Homo sapiens: one gene and its partners. The protein of the gene in region 4 purifies or fractionates together with the protein of the main gene of each other region. This does not show direct contact. Each region holds a gene or a part of one and is shown on either strand. Other genes may lie near its edges. The genes, in order: SETD1B, WRAP73, KANSL2 and ZNF609.

The links.
Region 1: the proteins of ZNF609 (region 4) and SETD1B purify together in Homo sapiens (affinity purification with mass spectrometry, with the first as the bait; one large-scale study listed by BioGRID). This does not show direct contact.
Region 2: the proteins of ZNF609 (region 4) and WRAP73 purify together in Homo sapiens (co-immunoprecipitation; one large-scale study listed by IntAct). This does not show direct contact.
Region 3: the proteins of ZNF609 (region 4) and KANSL2 purify together in Homo sapiens (affinity purification with mass spectrometry, with the first as the bait; one large-scale study listed by BioGRID). This does not show direct contact.

What each region holds. Positions count from the first base shown.
Region 1 is NC_000012.12:121,813,810-121,817,901, forward strand, and holds part of SETD1B (histone-lysine N-methyltransferase SETD1B), read left to right. Parts: intron 1-296; coding exon 297-1,121; intron 1,122-3,223; coding exon 3,224-3,485; intron 3,486-3,560; coding exon 3,561-3,895; intron 3,896-3,989; coding exon 3,990-4,092. UniProt on the Homo sapiens protein: Histone methyltransferase that catalyzes methyl group transfer from S-adenosyl-L-methionine to the epsilon-amino group of 'Lys-4' of histone H3 (H3K4) via a non-processive mechanism.
Region 2 is NC_000001.11:3,639,961-3,644,052, reverse strand, and holds part of WRAP73 (WD repeat-containing protein WRAP73), read left to right. Parts: intron 1-4,092.
Region 3 is NC_000012.12:48,655,236-48,658,591, reverse strand, and holds part of KANSL2 (KAT8 regulatory NSL complex subunit 2), read left to right. Parts: intron 1-1,809; exon of another isoform or gene 1,810-1,944; intron 1,945-3,356. UniProt on the Homo sapiens protein: Non-catalytic component of the NSL histone acetyltransferase complex, a multiprotein complex that mediates histone H4 acetylation at 'Lys-5'- and 'Lys-8' (H4K5ac and H4K8ac) at transcription start sites and promotes transcription initiation.
Region 4 is NC_000015.10:64,458,513-64,463,377, forward strand, and holds the start of ZNF609 (zinc finger protein 609), read left to right. Parts: upstream 1-2,065; 5' UTR 2,066-2,326; intron 2,327-2,511; exon of another isoform or gene 2,512-2,655; intron 2,656-4,865. UniProt on the Homo sapiens protein: Transcription factor, which activates RAG1, and possibly RAG2, transcription. Through the regulation of RAG1/2 expression, may regulate thymocyte maturation.

The DNA of each region.
Region 1 (4,092 bases), on a different chromosome or scaffold from region 4:
GTTTGCCTGCCTCTTCAACTTTGTGTCCCCAGCACCTAGACCAGTGCCTGGCACACAGGTACTGAGCAAATGTTTGTTGAATTGGAATGAATGAATGAATTCTAGTGGTAACTCCATGAGGCAGGGACTATGATGCCCATTTTGCAAATGAAGACGCTGAGGCTTGGAGAGGCTGAATGGCTTGCACTGGGTCACACAGCTGGGAGTGCCACTGATTGCTAGTCTTGCAGAGGGGACTCCGAGAGCCCCTTGGCCTTCCAGACTCACCTCACTGTCTCTCCCTGCTCTCTCTGCAGGGCCAGCAGTCCTCAGGCGAGGACATGGAGATCTCGGATGACGAGATGCCCTCGGCCCCCATCACCAGCGCTGACTGCCCCAAGCCCATGGTGGTGACCCCAGGAGCGGCAGCCGTGGCAGCCCCTTCTGTGCTAGCCCCAACCCTGCCGCTGCCCCCGCCACCTGGCTTCCCCCCGCTGCCCCCCCCACCACCACCACCCCCACCGCAGCCTGGCTTCCCCATGCCCCCACCGCTGCCCCCACCGCCGCCCCCACCCCCTCCAGCCCACCCTGCTGTGACAGTGCCCCCACCACCCTTGCCAGCGCCGCCTGGAGTCCCGCCCCCACCCATCCTGCCACCACTGCCCCCCTTTCCGCCGGGCCTGTTCCCTGTGATGCAGGTGGACATGAGCCACGTGCTGGGTGGCCAGTGGGGCGGCATGCCCATGTCCTTCCAGATGCAAACGCAGGTGCTCAGCCGGCTGATGACGGGCCAGGGCGCCTGCCCCTACCCGCCCTTCATGGCCGCTGCGGCCGCCGCTGCCTCAGCTGGGCTCCAGTTTGTCAACCTGCCGCCCTACCGGGGCCCCTTCTCCCTGAGCAACTCCGGCCCAGGCCGCGGGCAGCACTGGCCACCACTGCCCAAGTTTGACCCGTCAGTGCCTCCACCAGGCTACATGCCACGCCAGGAGGACCCACACAAAGCCACGGTGGATGGCGTCCTGCTGGTGGTCCTCAAAGAACTCAAGGCCATCATGAAGCGTGACCTGAACCGCAAGATGGTGGAAGTGGTGGCTTTCCGGGCCTTTGACGAGTGGTGGGACAAGAAGGAGCGGATGGCCAAGGTGGGTGGGTGGGTGCAGGGCTCTGCAGGGTGGCTGTGGAGGGGGGCAGGTCCCCAGCCGGGCACCTCCTCTTTCCCTGAGACTGTTAACTGGAAACGCTGCCGTGGACCCCACTATGGGAGCTCCATTTCATGTGGCCACTTTCAAAGTTCCGCAAACTGTGCTCCACTTCAGCAGCCACTAGATGCACACGGCTCTTTGAATTTAAATGAGTGGCCAGGCATGGTGGCGTACACCTTTAATCCCAGCACTTTGGGAGGCTGAGGTGGGAGGATTGCTTGAGCCTAGGAGTTCAAGATCAGCCTGAGCAGTATAGCAAGAGCCCATCTCTAAAAATAAATGTGCAAATTAACTTAAATGAATTAAAACAGAGTAAAATTAAAACTCCTCCTTTGTACATGCCACATTTCAAGTGCTCGGGAGCCACAGGTGCCTAGTGGTAGTACACAGGATAGCTGGTGCAGACTGCCCCCCCCGCCCATTGCAGACAGCTCACAGCTGCGACTCCCTTTGAACTTGACTCCCCTCACCTCCCCTCATGCCGCCTTTTACACGGAGCCCTGTCTTGGACCACTTTTTTCCTTTTTTTGTTTTTTTGAGACAGGGTCTCGCTGTATCGTCCAGGCTGGAGTGTAGTGGCGCAATCATAGCTCACTGCACCCTCAACCTCCCTGTGCTCAAGGGATCCTCTCACCTCAGCCTCCAAGTAGCTGGGACTACAGGCATGTACCACCACACCCAGCTAATTTGTGTGTTTTTCTGTAAAGACAGAGTTTCACCACGTTGCCCAGGCTGGTCTTGAACTCCTAGGCTCAAGTGATCCTCTGCCTTTTGGGCTGGGATTATATGCGTCAGCCACCGCTCCTGGCCTACTTACTATTTTCTTTTCTTTCTTTTTTTTTTTTTTTTTTTTCGGAGATGGAGTCTCACTCTGTCACCCTGGCTGGAGTGCAATGGCGTGATCTCAGCCCTCTGCAGCCTCCACCTCCTGGGTTCAAGCGATTCTCCTGCCTCAGTGTCCTAAGTAGCTGGGACTATAGGCACCCACTACCATGCCTGGCTGATTTTTGTATTTTTAGTAGAGATGGGGTTTCACCTTGTTGGCCAGGCTGGTCTCGAACTCCTGACCTCAAGTGATCCACCTGCTTCAGCCTACCAAAGTGCTGGGATTACAGATGTGAGCCACTATGCCTGGTCTCTTTTTTCCTTTTTAACATATTATTTGCCTGTTTGCAATCTTACAGGTAATCTAAAATTACTTATTTTCTCCATAAGAGAGAACTTTTTCTTGAATACTTTAAACTCCCCTTAATCCCTCCCCTCCACCCCATTCCCCCCTGCTCCCCTCCCTCGACCGTGGTTATGAGTTTGAGTGTCCCCTGGAGCCTGCTTTGGGAAATGCTTGCTTTCTGCCACAGAGGTAAGCAGCACTTGTCAGAGCCTGTTTGTCATCCGTTTAACTGGGCAGTAAAATTAGAATGAACCGTCTGAAATCACTGATACACAGCTCTTTATGGTTCAGCCAAATTATACTGACCCTACAGTAACAGCTAATAGCTATTCCATTCACAATTTGAATAAAAAGAGCCACCAGGCCTCATGTGCCCTGCACCTTGCAAAGCTCTTCATGTGGCTCGTTTTGTTAATTCTCACAGCATCCCTTTGAAGGCAGAGCATTTCAGAACCACAGGGGCAACCCCTTAGTGAGCAGTGAAATAAAGCCAGTAGGTCCTGTTTTTAATGCATGGGAAGAGAAGAGAAAATGGGATAGTGTAAATCTTACCTTGTGAAGGTGGTGTTGCACAGATGTGTCCCTATGGTGTAGTTTTTGGATTGTCTGCAAAGTGCAAAGGCCACTGTTGTAAGGAAGGCAGGTACAGTAGTCCTATTCTACAGGGGAGGACATTGAGATCTATGAGGCAGAGCGGTGCTCTAGAGCCTCGTGGGTAACGGCATAGTGTGGCCAGGTGTGTAGGGAATGAGGATGCAGTTACCTGTGGTGGCTGTTACTGCCGAGTGGAAGGCAGGTAGCCTGGGGAGGGCTCCCTGCAAGGGTTGGTGGTGCCAGAAGCGGTGACGGTCCCCTCCTGTCTCCACCCCAGGCCTCGCTGACCCCGGTGAAGTCGGGCGAGCACAAGGACGAGGACAGGCCGAAGCCCAAGGACCGCATCGCCTCGTGCCTGCTGGAGTCATGGGGCAAGGGCGAGGGCCTGGGCTACGAGGGCCTGGGCCTGGGCATTGGGCTGCGTGGGGCCATTCGCCTGCCCTCCTTCAAGGTCAAGAGGAAGGAGCCACCAGACACCACCTCATCTGGCGACCAGAAGCGGCTGCGGCCCTCGACCTCTGTGGATGAGGAAGATGAAGGTTCGTGCTCTGGGTGCTGGGGTCCCCTTCTTCCGCATCCCCCCAGCCCAGCTCTGACTCCCTCCCTTCCTGCAGAGTCCGAGCGAGAGCGAGACCGGGATATGGCAGACACCCCCTGTGAGCTCGCCAAGCGGGACCCCAAGGGCGTGGGTGTGCGGCGGCGGCCGGCGCGGCCTCTGGAGCTGGACAGTGGTGGGGAGGAGGACGAGAAGGAGTCATTGTCGGCGTCCTCGTCCTCATCCGCGTCATCATCCTCGGGGTCCTCAACCACCTCACCCTCGTCCTCGGCCTCCGACAAGGAGGAGGAACAGGAGAGCACCGAGGAGGAAGAGGAGGCGGAGGAGGAGGAGGAGGAGGAAGTCCCCAGGAGCCAGCTCTCCTCCTCCTCAACCTCATCCACATCAGATAAGGTGCCTAGCAGGCCAGGAAGCCTCAGGGGGCCGGGCCAGGCGACGAGGGCCAGACCCTTCGGCTCACCTGTCCCCACTCTTCCTTCTCCCCCAGGATGACGACGATGACGACAGTGATGACCGGGACGAGTCTGAGAACGATGACGAGGACACAGCCCTGTCAGAGGCGAGTGAGAAGGACGAAGGGGACTCGGATG
Region 2 (4,092 bases), on a different chromosome or scaffold from region 4:
GAAGGCGCGACCCCATGTCCGGGGCTCAGCGGGGCCGCTGGGTCCCCTTCCGAAGGCGCGACCCCATGTCCGGGGCTCAGCGGGGCCGCTGGGTCCCCTTCCGAAGGCGCGACCCCATGTCCGGGGCTCAGCGGGGCCGCTGGGTCCCCTTCCGAAGGCGCGACCCCATGTCCGGGGCTCAGCGGGGCCGCTGGGTCCCCTTCCGAAGGCGCGACCCCATGTCCGGGGCTCAGCGGGGCCGCTGGGTCCCCTTCCGAAGGCGCGACCCCATGTCCGGGGCTCAGCGGGGCCGCTGGGTCCCCTTCCGAAGGCGCGACCCCATGTCCGGGGCTCAGCGGGGCCGCTGGGTCCCCTTCCGAAGGCGCGACCCCATGTCCGGGGCTCAGCGGGGCCGCTGGGTCCCCTTCCGAAGGCGCGACCCCATGTCCGGGGCTCAGCGGGGCCGCTGGGTCCCCTTCCGAAGGCGCGACCCCATTTCGGGGGTTAGTGGGGCCGCTGAGTCCACTTGCGAAGGCGCCACCCCACGTGAGGGTGCTGTGGAGCATGGGAGACGTCCCTGCCTCTTGCATTTTAACGTGAAAAGGCAAGCTTGCGCCCATTAGACGAGGTTCAGTGAGTCATCAAAAGCGGCTCACCCCTAGGCCTGCAGCGGAACACTGCCGCGCTTTCAGAGCCCTTCTCTTCCTCGTAGCAATGCCCTCCCCACCTGAGGGCACCTTTGCCCCACGTCTTGCGTGAATCACATCCTCACTGTTCTTGAGTCTCACTGTACAGATGTGTCTAAACACCACATTGCTTGCTGTGCAGTGTAAAGTTGATTTATAGGGGCTTGTACTTTGCAGTCTCTGCTGTTGCTGTTCCCCGTCACTGCTTTTAGACTCCTCCGTGTTGACAGGCATCGCTGGGCCTTCCCTTCCTCGTGAGGAACGCCATTCAGTCCTCGCCTGCTGGACGTGTGCGTCACCACGGACGGTGTGGCTGTGAACGTGTTGTCCCCGTCTCCTGGGCACATACCCGGAGAGCCTCTCTAGGAGAGCCTTGCTTGGCCGTAGCAGACGGAGGGGTTTCATTTGCCAAGGCTTTTGTGGCAGGATTACAATGATTCCATCCAGGCGACTAAATGATACTGCAGTTTGGATTTAGTTTGCGTTTCCCTAATTCTCGGTGAGGTTGAGTGCTTTCCTATCTTGTTTCATTACACACAGACGCTCACACATGCTCCATTTAAATGAAGCAGGTTCACGTAGTGGGGCACACTGTGGGGTCTGAATCCATTTCTACCTTTTCCCAGCAGCATTTTTTTTTTTTTTTTTTTGAGATGGAGTTTCGCTCTTGTCCCCCAGGCTGTAGTGCAATGGTGTGATCCAAGCTCACCGCAACCTACGCCTCCCAGGTTCAAGCGATTTTCCTGCCTCAGCCTCCCGAGTAGCTGGGATTACAGGCATGCGCCACCACGCCTGGCTAATTTTGTATTTTTAGTAGAGATGGGGTTTCTCATGTTGGTCAGGCTGGTCTCAAACTCTCGACCTCAGTTGATCTGCCTGCCTCGGCCTCCCAAAGTGCTGGGATTACAGGTGTGAGCCACCGTGCCCAGCTCCCAGCAGCATTTATTTAGAAGGCTATCTTCACCAGCTATAGCAGGAGCTCAGTTCCATTATACCTGCAGGATCACTTCTGGTTTCCATTCCAGTCCACTGTTGGTCCACCTATGTGCCAGCACCACACTGTCTACATTATTGAGGTTCTATGGTGTGTTTGAATATCTGATGGGACTGATTCCTCTTCATTGCTCTTGTAGTCTGTCAGATTTTTTAAAAACAATTTTTTTGTAGAGTTGGGGTCTCCCTTTGTTTCCCAGGCTGGTCTCGAGCTCCTAAACTCACGCAATCCTTCCTTCCCAGCCTCCTGTATAGCTGGCATTACAGGTGCACAACAGTGCGCCCGGCTCTGCCAGATTTTTAAATGTATTTTTGAGACTTTGTTGTTAGCTGCATACAAACTTTTAACTGTTTGTAAACAGATTTCCTAGTGAAGCGGTTCCCATGATTCCGCGGTGGCACAGGCCTTTTGTTGTAAAGTATTCCTCTTTATGTCTCACGGTTCTTTTTGTTTCAGAGTCTGATTTATCCCGTACGAATGCGGCAGTGCCACCTTTCTCTTGGTTAGGATTTTCTTGATATGTCTTTTTCTATCCTTTTACCTTCTACATTTCTGCATCCTTAAACTTGAGTGTGTATGTTGTAAATAGTCTATAGTTAGCTTTAAAAATATATCCAGACTGCAGACTTTTTCTTATATCTGAATAAAGGCAATTAAAACAATTTATAAGCAAGAGAATTCACCCACTTTAAGAGCACAGTTGAGTGAGTCACTTTGCACGTCATTGCCGCCACAATCAGGACCAAGACTGTTCGCCCGTGGCATGGGGCTCCTCGTGCCCCTTGTGCTCAGTCCGTCTCCCACCTGTGTCCGGCAGCCGGTGCCTGCTGCGGGGCGAGCAGCACTGCCTACTCGGAATCCCATCTGCACAGAGCCATGGTGCGTGGAGCTGTGCGTCTGCTTCCTTTTCCCTGGCATCTTGCTGGTTTTGAGTGTGCTGGGTTGTGGGGTGGATCAGTGGCCCGTTCCTCCATCTTGAGAGTGCTGGGTCATGGTGTGGAGAGAGTGCTGGGTCGTGGCATGGATCAGTGGCCTGTTCCTCCCGTCTTGAGTGTACTGGGTCATGGCTTGGATCCGTGGCCCATTCCTCTCACCCTGAGCATGCTGAGTTGTGGTGTGGATCGGTGGCCCGTTCCTTCCGTCTTCAGCACACTGGGTCGTAGCGTGGATCAGCGGCCCCTTCCTTCCCTCCTGAGTGCTCTGGGTCATGTGGATCCCTCTGGTCCTTTCTTCCTGCTGCTGAGTGCTGTGGAGCCCATCCCACGGGTCTCCTCCGCTGGCTTCTCCAGTGGTCAGTGGAAGGTAACAGCGCTGATGAAGGTGTATATTTAACTACCTTTTTTTCTTATTGGGTTTTTAAAAGTTGCAAAGTTATCTTTTAAAGGTTTTTGTTTCTTTGTTTTTGTGAGATGAAGGTAAAAATCAGGCTTAAAGTGCTCCCTGTGTTTCCTAAGATGTGCCTGAGTGGGGAGCCTCGGCCAGGCGCACCCCACAGGGATGCAGGGCCACAGGTGGGAGATGTGCTTTTCTCCTGTGACTCTGCAGTAGGCTCTGGAGGGCAGGTCTCTGCCCTGGGTGGCACATGGACTCTCCTGATGCTGAGAGGCTCGGGCGCTGCACCCCGCCCTGCTGATGCTGAGATGCTTGGGTGCTCCACCCCGCCCTGCTGATGCTGAGATGCTCCGTTGCTGCACCCTGCCCTGCTGATGCTGAGATGCTCGGGCGCTCCACCCTGCCCTGCTGATGCTCAGAGCCTCGGGCGCTCCACCCCGCCCTGCTGACGCTCAGAGCCTGGGGCGTTCCACCCTGCCCTGCTGATGCTCAGAGCCTCGGGCGCTGCACCCCGCCCTGCTGATGCTCAGAGCCTCGGGCGCTGCACCCCGCCCTGCTGATGCTCAGAGCCTCGGGTGTTCCACCCTGCCCTGCTGATGCTCAGAGCCTCGGGCGCTCCACCCCGCCCTGCTGATGCTGAGATGCTCGGGCGCTCCACCCCGCCCTGCTGATGCTCAGAGCCTCAGGCGCTGCACCCACCCTGCTGAGTCTGAGAGGCTTGGGCAAGGTTTCAGCCTCAGACACGCTGGTGGGAAGTAGCACGCTTCCTCGCTCAGGCCCCAGCGCCCTCCTTGGCCTCAGCTTGTGGAGCTGTTAGAGGAGCAAGTGCTCTGTGCAGCTGGAGTTCCGAGGCATGGTCCCCAGAACGGCCAGTGTGTTTCGGGTTCAGCATCAGCACAGGAGCCCTTCCGTGCTGCCACGTGACCCCTGGAGCTCGTTGATCCACTACCTGTGTGTTCAGGACTTCTCTCCTGAACGCTGTATATGTTGTTTGGAGAAACAATTACAGACATCAGATTTTCTTTTCTGTTGTAAGAAGAGATGATGCGTAGACATTTAAATTAAATCATTTGTTAATATCCTATACTGACAACCTGGCAG
Region 3 (3,356 bases), on a different chromosome or scaffold from region 4:
TAGAGATGGGGTTTCGCCATGTTGGCCAGGCTGGTCTCGATCTCCTAACCTCAGGTGATCCACTCCCCTCAGCTTCCCCAAAGTGCTGAGATTATAGACATGAGACATCGCGCCCAGCTGAAAACATGGATTCTCTTTATATCCTGATACTTCAATTTTTAAAACACTCCTGTTTTAATAGGCATTTTTGCTGATTTTCTTATTTTAGGATCCTTTTCCCAGTTTAAAATCTTATAAAAGACAACCCTTTGTATATATGAGAAAAGCCTTTTCTGAAAACATACACATTCCATTATTATCTTGAGATTTAGATGCCTTTTGATTCAGTGTTTAAATAATTCCAAGCTAGTCATTATTATTTTTGACAGAGTCTCGCTCTGTCACCTAGGCTGGAGTGCATTGGCGTGATCTCGGCTCACTGCACTGTCTGCCTCCTGGGTTCAAGCGATTCTCCGGTCTAAGCCTTCCGAGTAGTTGGGATTACAGGTGCGCCCCACTGTGCTTGGCTAATTTTTGTATTTTTAGTAGAGACAGGGTTTCACCATGTTGGCCAGGCTGGTCTCAAGCTCCTGGCCTCAAGTGTTTCGCCCACCTTGGCCTCCCAAAGTGCTAGGATTACAGGCGTGAGCCACCGTGCCCATTCCAAGCTAATTGTTTATGTAAGAATTGCACATGGGCCGGGTGCGGTGGCTGACGCTTGTAATCCCAGCACTTTGGGAGTCCGAGACGGGTAGATCACCTGAGGTCAGGAGTTCTAGACTAGCCTGGCCAACATGGTGAAACTCCGTCTCTACCAAAAATACAACAATTAGCTGGATGTGGTGGCACGCGCCTGTAATCCCAGCTACTGGGGAGGCTGAGGCAGGAGAATCGCTTGAACCCAGGAGGTGGAGGTTGCAGTGAGCCAAGATCTTGCCATTGCACTCCAGCCTGGGTAACAAGAGTGAAACTCTGTCTCACACACACGCACGCACACACACACACACAAATTGCACATAGTAAAAGAATGGGAGAAAACAGATTTATAGTCTTAATGGTGTGAGAACACTGGTTTCTGTGGGTAGTACAGAAGTTTCCAACTCACCTGAAAATGAATGGTAGGTTGAGTGTATCCTGTGCCCTATGTTTCTGCTTAAATTGAGCAGCTTTATTTTATTATTTTTTTTTGAGACAGAGTCTTGCTCTGTTGCCCAGACTGGAGTGCAGTGGTGCAGTCTCGGCTCACTGCAACCTCTGCCTCCTGGGTTCAAGCAATTCTCCTGCCTCAGTGTCCTGAGTAGCTGGGACTACAGGTATGTGCCAAGACGCCTGGCTAATTTTTGTATTTTTAGTAGAGATGGGGTTTCACCATGTTGGCCAGGCTGGTAATTTTTTGTGGAGACTGGGTTTCACCATGTTAGCCAGGATGGTCTCAATCTCTTGACCTCATGATCCGCCCACCTTGGCCTCCCAAAGTGTTAGGATTGCAGGCGTGAGCCACTGCACCCGGCCTGAGCAGCTTTAAGTAGATTTTAAAATTATATATATTCTTTAATGTGAAGATGTTGTGATTCTCATTTTTGGTGATTAGCACACCAACAAATGGGAAAGGATTGCAAATTCTTAGATTTATTTAAAAGCGTAGAACTAAGCTTCTCGTGAAGCTAGATGAATAGAAACACGGAGCATCTATAAACTGGATTAAACATAGGGGGGTACAAACCTCCTGGATATTTTTAATTCTTAGGAAGAAGGAGAATTTAGCACCAGACTCTTGAAAAGCAGTGGCATGAAAGTTAGTTTGATATATTGTTTGAGTTTGTATTGCCTTAGGCCCTGAATCAAGACCAATGGTTTGCTGTAGCTGTTGGTTTCAAACAGGAGCTAAGAGTGATGTCTTCCTTGTGGTCTGTTGGCTATTCAGTATTCCAGTGCGAATTGCCAATTCAGTTGGAAGAAACATAGTCTAGAATGTAATGTCATTTTTTTTTTTTTTTTTTTTACAGAGCAAAACTATGTTAGGCTTAAGAACCAGGGAGTTGGCCGGGCGTGGTGGCTCATGCCTGTAATCCCAGCACTTTGGGAGGCTGAGGTGGGCCAATCACTGGTCGGGAGATCAAGGCCATCCTGGCTAACATGGTGAAACCCTGTCTCTACTAAAAATACAAAAAATTAGCTGGGCGTGGTGGCACACGCCCATAGTCCCAGCTACTGGGGAGGCTGAGGCAGGAGAATCACTTGAACCCAGGAGGCGGAGGTTGCAGTGAGCCGAGATCACGTCACTGCACTCCAGCCTGGGCGACAGAGCGAGACTCTGTCTCAAAAAAAAAAAAAACAAAACAAAAAAAACCAGGTTGTTGCTCTGTCGGGATAGGGACTTAACCAAAATAATATTTCCTAGCCATTCAGAGGAACTGTGAGTTTTCTGTTGTCCTTCCTTTCTTCCTACCTTCTCCCTTTCCCTTGTTGGAGCTTGTTTGCTTGCTTTGTGGCTGTTAGGATATTAATCAGGCAATCTTGTATTACCCAGCAATATTTAATTTTAACGTAGCATTGTTCATATTTAAATTAATCACTGGTGAACTTACATGTTCATTACAGGTAGCCTCAGAGAATATGCTTTTTTAAAAAATATTTTTTTAATTGTAGTAAAACATACATAACAAAATTTTACTCTTTTAACCTATGTATGTATGTGTGTAAGTAGGTGGGTAGGTAGAGATGGAGTCTTGCTGTGTCACCCAGGCTGGTCTTGAATTCCTGGCCTCAAGTGATCCTCCCACTTCGGCTTCCCAAGGTGTTGTTATCATAGGCATGAGCCACTGCACCTGGCCGTTTTTAAGTGTACAAGTCAGTGGTGTTATGAACATTTACCATGTTGTACAGCTATCACCATTTTCTGTTCCAGAACTTTTTCATCAACCCAAACAGAAACTTTGTACTTTTTAAACAGTAACTCTCTCCTTTCCCTTTCCCCTGTTCCCTACTATTCTCCGTTTCTACTTTGTGTTTCTGTGAATTTTCCTAGAATTTTTTTTTTTTTTGAGACAGGGTCTGGCTCTGCCACCCAGGTTAGAGTGCAGAGGTGCAGTCTCGGCTCACTGCAGCCTCTGCGTCCCAAGCTTGAGGGATCCTCCCACCTCAACCTCCAGAGTAGCTGGGACTACAGGTGTGTGCCACCGCGCCTGGCTTATTTTTGCAGTTTTTGTAGAGACGGGGTTTCACCATGTTGCCCAGGCTGGTCTTGAACTCCTGGGCTCAAGTGATATGCCTACCTTGGCCTCCCAAAGTGCTGGGATTAGAGGTGTGGTGGCCAGAATTTTGTTTTTTAATCTACTGTATTGGTCTATGTTTTACACTTGGCAGCAAAAGCTCTC
Region 4 (4,865 bases):
TATTTTAGGCTTTACACAGGCCATGCAGTCCTTGTTTCAACTGTTCAACTCTGCTGTTGTAGTAAAAATGCATCTATAGATGATAATGTAAATGAATGAGCTTGGCTAGAGCCAATAAAACTATTTTTTTGTTTGTATTTTAAGACAGTTTCATTCTTGTTGCCCAGGCTGGAGTGCAGTGGCAAGATTTCGGCTCATTGCAACCTCCGCCTCCCGGGTTCAAGCGATTCTCCTGCCTCAGCCTCTCAAGTAGCTGGGATTACAAGCATGTACCACCACGCCCGGCTACTTTTGTATTTTTACGGGGTTTCTCCATGTTGGTCAGCCTGGTCTCGAATTCCCGACCTCACGTGATCCGCCCGCCTCAGCCTCCCAAAGTGCTGAGATTACAGGCGTGAGCCACCGCACCTGGCCTGAAATTTGAATTTCATATCATTTTCACATCATGAAATAGTATTTTGATTATTTAACTGTTTAAAAATGTAAAAATCATTCTAGCTCATGGGACATGTTAAAACAGGTGGTGAGCCTGATTTGACCTGTGAGATGCAGTTTGCCAACCCTTGGTCTAGAGGAACAGTAAATCAAAACTTAAGGTTTGTTTACTATGTGGGACATCTGATCACTTGAAAATTTTTAGTGGTTCTTCGAGGCTTGAGAACTTTCTCTGGCTGAAACTTGGAGTTCACTGCAGGAATGTTTACCTTCCTTTGTTCCCTATTTTTGCAGTCTAGTTCTCTCCAATGGCAGAGTCATGCTCCTTCAGTGGGAGATGACTACTGGAATGTTTAATCCTTAATTAAATCATGCCTAAGTCTAAAACACTAAACCCTTCTCTGTCTCCACCTGCTAAGTAGCTGAATCCTCACTTGTAACTTTGTCTAGTATACATTGGAAGTTCGCTGTCACCTGGGATCAGTTCTGCCCCTGTACTGTCTAACAACATGACTATTGGTGGACCAAAGAGAGATTATTTTTCCTAGACCAGAAAGGTTTACTTTTATCTTTAGCTATCAACCCCTCCCCCCACCTTTTTATGACCTCACTTTATCTCCAAGTCACATGCTATCTTGAGTGGCACTGTTGAAGGATGCCCCAGGATAAGGGAAAAAAGGTAAGATAAATGCAAAGCAAAATAAAATGGTCAAGGACACAGGAAGGACATAATAGGGGCTAGGATGTGGGAGGCCTTGAGAATTAAGGTAAATTTGTTTGCTATGGAATGAGATGGAAGTCTTAGGAGGTCGTCATGAATAGATGTTTCACAAGTGAAAGCTGGGTGGGAGGGCTCACTTAAACATGGACTGAATGCCTACTGTGCACTAGATAGTATGCTGGGCAATCAGAGATGAATAGCAGATAAGGAAAAATAAAAGCTACAATCCTTAGAATGGTGGGTTGGAGAAGGACAGAATAAGGTTTTTAGATAATAAAAGGCAACAAGATTTAGTGATAGAGGATGGTGAGGGGAAAAGGGATATATAGAGGGATTAGAAATGGGTGCTTTGGGGAGAAAAGCAAGTGGTAATCCTAAAAGAGAAAGCTGGAGAACAAAGGATAAAAAATTAGGAGGTTGGTACTTTGCTGAACTAAGGGGTAAAATGGATGAAACCATCAGGAGCTGTGATTGCTCTTCTGTTCTTTGTGGATGCCCATGTTCAGATCCCCTACGGCCCTTTCCTCTCTGTGGTTGAAGGACAACTACAGAAGAGGTGTCTTCTGTGTTATAAGGTGCAATACTCCCCCCAGAGACCTCTCTATGAGGAAGTCTGATCCAGCGAGAGTTCTACTGCCCACGAGGGGACAGCGTTAGGTTCGAGCTCTCTAATCCAGGTTTCTTTGAGTTTATCTTGGTTCTAACCGGCACGCCGGGTTTTCCAGCATTCCCTGAGCTAAGACTCCCTAATCTGGGCTCCGGGTGAGCGCGCATTCCGAGACCCAGGATTTCGCTCCTTCATCCAGGTTCCGGGTTTCCCCTGCGCTCACCGGCTCCAGACTCCACACAAGCGCGGAATCCGGATCCGAGGGCCTGGCAGTCCAGTGTCCGCGTCTTCCGGGTGACTCTGGTTGTCCCGGATCGCGGCGGCGGCGGCGGTGGCGGCGGCTGAGGGACCCGCGGCCCCGGACACAGCGGCACCGGCCGGGCGGGGCGGAGAGGCGCGGGGAGGGGGCAGAGAGCCAGAGCCGGAGCCGGAGCCGGAGCCGGGGTGGGGTGGGGGGGAGGGGCCGCGGGAACGGATGGCGGCCTGGGCCCCGTAGCAGCGGCGGCTCTACGGCCCGGGGCCCCGGGCGGGCGGAGGTGGCGGCTCCCGGGACCGGCCGCGCGGTGAGTCCGGAGCTTTGTGTGGAGCCGGGACTGGGGGAGGAAAGAGGCGGCGGCACCGATGGGGCGCGGGGCTGAGGGGATCTGATGGGGGCCGGGGGCGGCGGCGCTGCCTGACGGAGGAAGTGGGGGTTGGGGGGGCTGGGGCGGAGCGAGGGGAAGGTGTGTAGGGGGGGTCGTTGCGTGGGTGGGGGAGGGGGCGTCGAGGGGCGCGGGGTGAAGTTCAAAGCGTGGCCACGGCCGGTTCAGGCTGAGGGTAGGGGTGCCCGGGAGGGGATTAGGGTCTGGCTAGGTTATGGGAGCAGGCCAGAGAGTTTCTGAGGCGAGTCTGGGTATGTTGAGGGCGCTCGGGGCGACTGGGGCCAGTCAGGGAGTTGGCGGGGGAGGGGGGGCGGGGGCGGTGGTGGTTGTTCAGAGCATAGGGTCGGAAGCAGGACGTGTGCGTGACCTAGGAGTGGGGAGCAAGGTGGCTGGGATCCTGCAGTAAGTAGGTTGTGGGTGTGTGCCCCTAACAGTCTTCAGGTCACATTTACTCCTGTCCTTTTCTTCAAGATGGAGGGATCCCTGGGCCTGGACCTCAACTGCTATCCTTGTACCCCCGGGAGGGTTTGTGACCCTATCCTGTTTGGAAAACCCATGCTGCCCTCTTTTCCCTTTATGTGTAATTACGGTTGGATCATCTCTGTGCTTTGCTCAGATTCTCCTTCCTCCCTCTGGGGTTGAGGAGGAGGAGACACATCTGACCAATTAATGTGTGTTTGTGAAACAGGCAGCAGCAAACAGTCATTTCAGCTTCGAGGAATTAGGCTCACACAGGGTGGAGAGATCAGAGCCCTTCAGGGGGAATATTTCTGAACAAATCACGGATGATTAAATTCTCTAAGAAACAGCTCCCTACCTAAATGAGAGTGAGAAAGATAGGGAAGAAAGCCTGTCTGTTTCCAGCCATGTGTCCAGAGCCTAAGGGGTTGAGGAGAGTCCCCAAGCCCCTACAGGCCTCCCTTTTCTGTATTAGGCTTTGCTCTGCAGCCTTGAGTTAATTTCACCCCTGCTGCTTTGTCTTGGGGGAGGGAGTGCTGGTTTAGGCTGTTGTGAGGAGATGACTGTTCTGCTGCCACACACAATAGTCGTGTCATTTTATCGGGAGCGCTACCCCAGGGCTGAGAACTGCTGCAGCAGAGATAAACCGGTCCCTCTCACCCGCCTATTGTGTACACAGTGAAGGTCATAGGTTCAAGTCTTGTCTGAGAGCTTTGGATATGCTCCATCTCCCAGGCTCCTCAGTGCCATTTTCTTCCTTTTCCAGACTGGGGCTTGCCATTGGAGGAGGCCAGAGAGAAAGGCTCTTCTTTTTGAGTGAGGAACAATGCAGAGCTCATTGGCACACATTTTTCAGAAGAATAAGGGATGCCAGCCATGTTGTGCCTGCCTCTTTGGCTAGCCTGTACTAAGTTGTGAAGGAATAGTGTCTGGTAGACTCAACTACGATGTTTGTTTCAGACCCTTAAGGAAGAAGACTTCAAGGGAAGGTTCTACTCTTAGTTGAATCATCATATTTAATTCTTTTATATGAATGGAACACTCATGCAGTGATTTTTGTTTGTTTCCGAATACCACTAAAAACCTGTGCAGTGTTAAGATGGGGAGTCAAGCCCAGGTGTGGTGGCTCATGCTTGTAATCTTGGCACTTTGGGAGAATGAAGCCAGAGGATGGCTGGAGCCCAGGAGTTTAAGACCAGCCTGGGCAACAAAGCAAGACCCTGTTTCTTTAAAAATAAAAAATAAAAAAGTCAAGAACCAAGTACCTTTTTAATGGTGGCTTCCTGGTCAATAATAATAGCACAACAAAAAAGCCACAGAATTTGCCTATCTGGGCAAGGGCTGTGGGAACAAACCTTTCAATATTTATTTTAACTCTAATGAAAGGACATGAGTTGCTCATTGTGCAAAAGTCTATATCTGCCTCTGTATTAAGAAATTTGCCAAAGAAATAAACATTTTTGAAAAAATGTATGGGTCTTAGGGATTATTAGTGAGAGAAGGATGAGAACAAACTAGAAGGAATCCTATTGTACATATCTGATAGAAGTGCTCAAATAATATTTATGTACTATTAGTTGTGTAAAAAATTATTTGGGACCAGGCATGGTGCTCACACCTGTAATCCCAGCACTTTGGGAGGCTGAGGCAGGAGGATCACTTGAGCCTAGGAGTTTGAGAGTGGCCTGGGCAACATAGTGAGAACTCATCTCTACAAAAATTTAAAAAAATACAGCTAGCTGGGCATAGTGGCACATGCCAGTGGTCCCAGCTACTCAGGAGGCTGAGGTGGGAAGATCGCTTGAGTTCAGGAGTTCGAGACCAGCTTGGGCAACATGGCAAAACCCCATCTCAACAAAAAATATAAAAAATGTTAGCTGGGTGTAGTGGCATACGCCTGTGGTCCCAGCTTCTTGGGAGGCTGAGGTAGAAAGATCTCGTTGAGCCCAGGAGGTTGAGGCTGCAGTGAGCTGTGATTGCACCGCTGTACTCCAGCCTGGGT